Homo sapiens: one gene and its partner. The protein of the gene in region 1 purifies or fractionates together with the protein of each later gene. This does not show direct contact. Each region holds a gene or a part of one and is shown on either strand. Other genes may lie near its edges. The genes, in order: VPS33B and FARP1.

Region 1 (3,815 bases):
CATTTTAGAACTGGAAACGTGCTTGCTGGTCACCTCAGCCATCTCCCTCATTTTATGGTAGAGGAAACTCAGGTACAGAGTGGTAGAGTGATTTTTACAGGGAAGAACCAGACCAGGCCTGGAGCCACTACAAAGTCCAGGCCAAGAAGCACAGGAAGCCCCTGTAGCAAGCTCCAATGGGCTTTCACTAATAAAGATGGAAGTGCGTGTCCAGAACGACCAACGTATTACATCTGAGAGCAGAGGCTTTATTTACAATGACATTCAAACAGGATTTAGCAAAGGATGCCTCTTCCTGCTCGCATCTTAGCAGCATGGGTTGTACTTCATAAACAGAAAAGAGAAATATCCTGGGAGCAGGAAGTGAACTCTTTTCTCAGATAATGTTCTCTAAATCCCAACACGTTCCATGCTCCCGGCTCTTAGCAGGTAGTTGGTGGACACTTGGTTATAGCAGCTGGGTGCCAGATGCCTGCATCTCACTGAGGAATGTGTTCAGGGAAGATGTCAACACTGGCCGGGAAAAACATCAGGCTTTCACCTCACTCATGGCCTCCATAAGGCGAGCGCTGTTTGTGACTGCTGTCGTCAGGAAAATGAACCTGTAGCCTAAGGAGTCAAATGCAGCAGCAGAAGAGACAGCACAGATCTTAGGCCCCAACGGCAACCCATAGAGCCTCTCCAGTTCCACAGTCCCCACGGGATCACAGCACCAGTTTATAGACAGAGACGTGAGTGCCATGCTCTTGGGCACCACTGCTTTCTATGACTGGTATAACTGGGCTCCCTGCTGTGGCAGCCCAGAGTTAAGGCTATGGCAAGTTGTATTCTGAGGCCAGGAGAAAAATATTCCTGTGCAGGACACTTTGCGTGTTTTTTTTTTTTCTCTTGAGATGGAGTTTTGCTATTGTTGCCCAGGCTGGAGTGCAATGGTGCAATCTCAGCTCACTGCAACCTCCACCTCCCGGGTTCAAGCAATTCTCCTGCCTCAGCCTCCCGAGTAGTTAGCATTACAGGCACCGGCCACCATGCCTGGCTAATTTTTGTATTTTTCGTAGAGATGGGGTTTCACCATGTTGGTCAGGCTAGGCTCTAACTCCTGACCTCAGGTGATCTGCCCGCCTCCGCCTCCCAAAGTGCTGAGATTACAGGTATGAACCACCGTGCCCAGCTGACACTTTGTTACCCAGATACAATGCAGGCCAATTCTCACCTTTCTGCTCTCTCTTACCTTTCTCTCTGCCCAGGAACCGGAGGGCTGAGATCTCAGAGAATGTACAACCACCCAAGAACACCACCAAGATGAGGCGCAGGGACTCACTGGAAGCCTTGTCTTCCTTAGTCATATCTGTGAGGATCAGACCAGATTCAGCCCTTCCCTGACATGCTAGTCCTGAGTGGTGCATCCAGCCCACCTCTCACTGCCAGCCTACCCCACTGTTAATGCCACATACCTGTGAATGCAAAGTCACTGCAGTTGAGCAGCCGTACCACCTCATCAAGGCCCTGCCAGCTTCGCCGCTCTAGCACCTGGGAAGGTGTAAGCACTGTTTTTAAGGCTACAGACAGTATCAGGCTTAGGAAAGGAAGGGCACAGCAGCCAGACTGTCACATTTCTTGCTCATTACTCAAGTAGCAAAAAGTTGAGACAGGGCCAGGTGTGGTGGCTCACGCCTGTAATTCCAACACTTTAGGAGTTTGAGGCGGGGGGATCACCTGAGGTCAGGAGTTCGAGACCAGCCTGGTCAACATATAGTTGGCCCTGTCTATATGAAACCCCATCTCTACTAAAAATACAAAAATTAGCTGGGTGCAGTGGCACATGCCTGTAGTCCCAGCTACTTCGGAAGCTGAGGCAGGAGAATCACTTGAATCTGGGAGGTGGAGGTTGCAGTGAGCCAAGATCGTGCCACCGCACTCCAGCCTGGGTGACAGAGCAAGACTCCATCTCAAATAAAAAAAAAAAAACATTGAGACACGCCAGGGACCAAGAGAAAGCAGAGAGAATGAAATATGAATGGGAGCAAGAATTACATGCTCTCACCTGCTCAATGATTCGGCAGCTCAGGGGCACATAAGCACCACCGAAGACGTAAGCCATGTCTCGGGGCACTTTCAGATCATACTCGCCGTCCACACGTGGGATCTGTAAGACAAAGGGACTTCATTAGGCAAGTGACAGCTCAGCTCCCTAACCCTTTAAAGGGTCAGATAAAGTGGCATGGCCCAAGGAACAATTCTTATTTCAACTAAAGGGAGAACCAGCAATAGCCCTGAAAAGAGAATCCATAACGGAAGATGGCAGTTTTTGTTCAGTAACTGCCAGTTCTCTGGAATGAGTTCCCATGCGCCATTATTGAATAATGTAAAGGGGCTGGAGGGATGGCTTCTCCTTTCCCTACCCTTAAGTGACACAGGATATGGTTGTCACTGAAGCAGCACTTAGAATATTCTCTGGCATTGGCAGGTGCTTGTTACATGTTGATTAAATGAATGAATCTACCATGCTATAAGACTACCAAACAAAAGAATCTTTATACACATGAAATGACAAAAAGGTTTTTGTGGATTCAAAGTACTCCACAATGGGCTGGGCGCAGTGGCTCATGCCTGTAATCCCAGCACTTTGGGAGGCCGAGGTGGGCGGATCACCTGAGGTCAGAAGTTCAAGACCAGCCTGGCCAACATGGGGAAACCTTGTCTCTACTAAAAATACAAAAATTAGCTGGGCGTGGTGGCACATGCCTGTAATCCCTTGGGAGGCTGAGGCAGGAGAATCACTTGAACCTGGGAGGCAGAGGTTGCAGTGAGCTGAGATTGTGCCACTGCACTCCAGCCTGGGCAACAGAGCAAGATTCCATCTCAAAAAAAAAAAAAAAAAAGAAAAGTACTCCACAATGGAATGAACCCACTGTCTCCCCTAACCATCCCTGTTCCACATACCAAATTCAGCTTTTTGCTGATGGCACGAAAATTGCTCCTCTTGGCCAGAGAACTGAAGGCATCAGTAATCTTTCCTGGGGAAGAAATCTGTGTCAGGTTTCACCTAAGGTCTATGGATTCATGACACTGCCACAGATAACACCATTCAGGACACGACAGCACCAATCACATCCAAAAACTCTCGGAAGCTGTTCAACTATAATTCCCTGGAACTAATCAAGATATACTCCCCACCCTTCTCCCCACCCACAGTCTTCCCCCTCCTACGGGGTACCAGCTCTCTACTAAATGCAATCCACAGGGTAACCCGAGTTTATTGGTATGTGCTTTGGGAGTTAAACCGACCTAACTTACTAACTAAGGGACCTTGGACAAATCACTTAATTCTCTAAGCCTCAGTTTCATCATAAAATGAGGATGAGAAAATTTATCTCACAGTCTTTGTGAGATTAAATGAGAAACTAAAGGGCTCAGCACATGGTAAGTGTTTACTATGTGGAAACTGCTCTTACTAGCAGAAGTAGTAGTAATAATAGTAATGACATTAATAGGAAGGAATCAGTCCACCTTCTCCAATTCATTCTGTCCCTCCCAGCATGCTGCGTGTTGAGAGAAGTCAGGACAACAGCTGGAGCAGGGGTCACTTGTGCTCCCTGCTTACCTGCAGCCTTGTCGGTCACCAGCTTGCTCACTTTACTCTCCACGGCTGTGAGGGTGTCCCCGGGGGCCTGCTCCGTTAGGAGCCCAGCTCTTCGCAGATTGGAGAAGGTTAGCAGGTGCTCAGGGCCATAGCTCTGAAGAAGATGCAATTAGACTATTTACTGAGTGTCCAAAGAGCATCTAGTACTGTCAGGTACTACAGAGTTGAGCAG
Region 2 (3,815 bases), on another chromosome or scaffold:
AGGAACTGCCCAAGGAAATTGTTTTGTTTTGTTTTTTGGTTAAAGATACAAATAAGATAGCATTGAAAGGGTTAGTTTTTTTTAAACAGTGAAGCTTATACTCATTTAATTTATTGAACACCTAAGAGCTTAATTCATTTGGAAAATTGTATATATTTATGAGGAGGATGCTTGTGATAAACATCAGAAAAAAACAACTCTTTTCATCCTGGACGGGATTAGAGAATACTAGAGAAAGGATAAAAGGCTGGTTTCTGCAGGCAGAATATGCTTAGGAAAAATGGCATTGTGATTTTCCCAGAGGATAAGAGAAATTCTGTGGATTTGTAAGTACTGTACTTGCCTGATTTTTTTTTTTGAGATGGAGTTTTGCTCTTGTTTCCCAGGCTGGAGTGCAATGGCGCAATCTCGGCTCACTGAAACCTCTGCCTCCCAGGTTCAAGCGATTCTCCTGCCTCAGCCTCCCCAGTAGCTGGGATTACAGGCATTTGCCGCCATGCCCAACTAATTTTCTGTTTTTAGTAGAGACGGGGTTTCTCCATGTTGGTCAGGCTGGTCTTGAACTCCTGACCTCAGGTGATTTGCCCGCTTCGGCCTCTCAAAGTGCTGGGATTACAGGCGTGAGTCACAGAGCCTGGCCTTGCCTGATGTTTTGATAGCATGGTGGACTGGACATTTTAAAGAAGCCCTTTGTAACTGGCCTTGCTTATTGCAGATAACTGCTTAGTGTTTTTGAGAAATGCACTTTCCTCACCAGCTGAAGGTGCTACAGATAAGAGGGGCAGGTATAGTCCTGTAATGCAGGTGCTAAAGTCTTTCTACTTTGGAAGGACAGGCATTCCCTGTATTGGTTACCGTTTGCCTGGGAAGGGAGGCTGTGGGGTTTTAGGCTCTCGTGGCAGTCTCTCTCCTGTTGTTTGGTGCTTTTGATTGAAAGGAGCCTCTCCAAGCCTGGCTATTGAATGGGAAGCAGCGGATCAACTTCTTTTCTTGTCTTTTAGTGTCAGAGTTTATTCTGTGGTGGTACTGGGTCACAGTCCTTTCTCTCTGTTTCACCCATGGCAACTTAGGTAGGCTGTTACCTCCTTAACCACTTCCACATGGCCAGGAAGATCAGAGCCAAACGGTTTTCATTCAAATTACTTGAAATACTGATTTCTCCAGTCCTGTTCTGCCAAATGCAGCCTTTGTTTTCAATCAAGAAGCCCCCAGAAAACGTGTATTTAAAACTGGCAAAACTTTTTATAGGATGCCCTTGCCCTGGTTTGAATTAGTTAAAAATGTTTGGCCAAGTGGATACTTTGAGCAAAAGTGGATAATGGATACATTACTAAAATATCATGCTCGAAGCTTTTGATACTAATCCGGCGAGACTGAAACTGAGGCATGCTCAGTGCTGCCTGCAAACTGTTAACTCAGATTTTAAGTTTTCTTAGTTTAATGTGGGATGGAAATTATGAACTTCAAGACTTGCAATTAATGTGGGAATTCATCATTTACACTGAATGAATTTCATATGTAAAACTGTCATATTTGTTCACACATTAAAAAAAAGAAGAGCCTCAGGCCACACTAGACTGCCTTTAACTCTCAATTATGATAATAACCTCTGACCACAAGAGTAACTTCACTTTATGTGCAGACTTTTGACGAAATGCTTTGCATAAATTTATTATCAATTAGAAGACTTAAAAATCCAGTATTATGATGACTTTCAGTTTTTGTTCTTGTTCATTCAGGATCTAGTATAGTATCTGAATATAGCAAACCCTTGGTAAATTATTGTGTTCTGTTTTCTTTTTGAAAAAAACTCGAGGCTGGAGTGCAGTGGTGATCATGGCTCATTGCAGCCTTGACCTCTTGGGCTCAAGCAATCCTTTCATCTCAGTCTCCCGAGTAGCTGTGACTACAGACACATGCCATCACGCCCAGCTAATTTTTTCTTTAAAAAAATTTTTCTTAGAGAGTCTCACCGCTATGTTGCCCAGTCTGGTAAATCCTTGTTGAATGAATAATAAATCCAGTTTTTACCATCCCTTCAAATTAGTCTTTAGGGTTTTTAAAGGAAACTTGTTATTAGAATTGATAGATTGCAGTTCTGGCAGTTTGATATTTGATTTTGTTTTCATTTCATTCTAATTTAGCAATTGAATCCTTAAAGCTAAGTCAGATTGTAAAAAGACAGAGGTTCCTTTTCAAAAAAAAAGACAATAAGGTGCGGTGGCTCACGCCTGTAACCCCAGCACTTAGGGAGGCCAAGGCGGGCGAATCATCTGAGGTCAGGAGTTCAAGACCAGCCTGACCAACATGGAGAAACCCCGTCTCTACTAAAAATACAAAATTAGCCAGGCGTGGTGGCGCGTGACTGTAATCCCAGCTACTCGGGAGGCTGAGGCAGGAGAATCGCTGGAACCCGGGAGGCGGAGGTTGTGGTGAGCTGAGATTACGCCATTGTACTCCAGCCTGGGCAACAAAAGTGAAACTCCGTTTCAAGAAAACACAAGACAATAAAAGCATGAAGAAGAAAATAAAACAAACTTGAAATCCTGCCACCTGTTACTGACTCCTACCTTAGCATTTTGGGATCTGTTCTTTTATATAGCCTTCTCATTTCTTAACCTGCGCCAAATTTGACATTCTAATTGTTTTATATGGTACTTGTCTGTAAATTTAATGTGCTCACCATTCCTTTTTGTACTTTGAAGCTTGCTTCTGGGATACATTTTCCTTCTTCCTGAGACACATCTTCTAGAAATTCTGTTAGCATCTGTTGGTGGTAACTTCAGTTTCTGCATGTCTTAGATACCTTTGTTCTTGAATGGTAAGTTTATCTGGGTGTGCAATTCTGTATTGTTCCTGTATTAATCAGCTGTGTTCTGGTCCCATTGCTGTTGCTGTCTAATTATTTGTAACTAGTCTGCCTTTTCTCTCTGGCTACTTTTAAGATGCTTTGGTGTTCTGCAGTCTGGCTATGACATGTCTAGGTATTTCTTCTCTCTTTTACTTTTTTTTTTTTGAGTCAGGTTCTCACTCCCATTGCCCAGGCTGGAGTGCGGTGGCATGATCTCGGCTCACTGCAGCCTCAACTTCCTGGGCTCAAGTGATCCTCTCACGTCGGCCTCCCAAGTAGCTGGAACTACAGGCAAGCACCACCACACTTGGCTCATTTTTTGTATTTTTACTAGAGATGGGGTTTTGCCATGTTGCCCAGGCTAGTCTTGAACTGCTGGGCTCAAGTGATCCTCCTGCCTCGGCCTCCCAAAGTGCTGGGATTACTGGCATGAACTGCCATGCCTGGCTCTCCTTTAGTTTTATTCCTCTCTCTCTTCTTCCCTCTTCTCCTCTCCCTCTCTTCTGTTCCTCTTCCCTGCTCCCTTGCTACTGTCTTTCCCATCCTCTTTATTAGTTTATTTTCTGTTGCTCAGCAGTATTTCCGTGGCTGGATATGCTATGACTTGCGTATCCACTCCCCTTTGGCCATTCAAGTTGTTTTCAGTGTTGGCTATCATGAATACAGCTGCTGTGAACATTTGTGAACAAATCTTTGTGTAGAGATAGGTTTTTATTTTTCCTCCTGGGTCTTTAAGTGTGTGCCTAACTTTATAATAAGCTATTTGTAAGAAAGCGTTGGCACCATTTTATGTTACCATCAGTGATGTATGAGACTTCTAGTTACTCCAATCTTGATCAACACTTGAAACAGTCTTTCCTTTTAGCCATTCCAGTGGCTATGTAGTGATATCTCACTGTGGTTTTGTTTTTCCTGATAACTAATGAAACATTTTCATGTACTTATTGACCATTTATATATCTTC

Evidence for each region.
Region 2: the proteins of VPS33B (region 1) and FARP1 fractionate together in Homo sapiens (co-fractionation; one large-scale study listed by BioGRID). This does not show direct contact.

What each region holds. Positions count from the first base shown.
Region 1 is NC_000015.10:90,998,446-91,002,260, forward strand, and holds the end of VPS33B (vacuolar protein sorting-associated protein 33B), read right to left. Parts: intron 3,738-3,815; coding exon 3,605-3,737; intron 3,018-3,604; coding exon 2,944-3,017; intron 2,147-2,943; coding exon 2,045-2,146; intron 1,531-2,044; coding exon 1,455-1,530; intron 1,349-1,454; coding exon 1,232-1,348; intron 610-1,231; coding exon 530-609; 3' UTR 228-529; downstream 1-227. UniProt on the Homo sapiens protein: May play a role in vesicle-mediated protein trafficking to lysosomal compartments and in membrane docking/fusion reactions of late endosomes/lysosomes.
Region 2 is NC_000013.11:98,145,888-98,149,702, forward strand, and holds part of FARP1 (FERM, ARHGEF and pleckstrin domain-containing protein 1), read left to right. Parts: intron 1-3,815. UniProt on the Homo sapiens protein: Functions as a guanine nucleotide exchange factor for RAC1. May play a role in semaphorin signaling.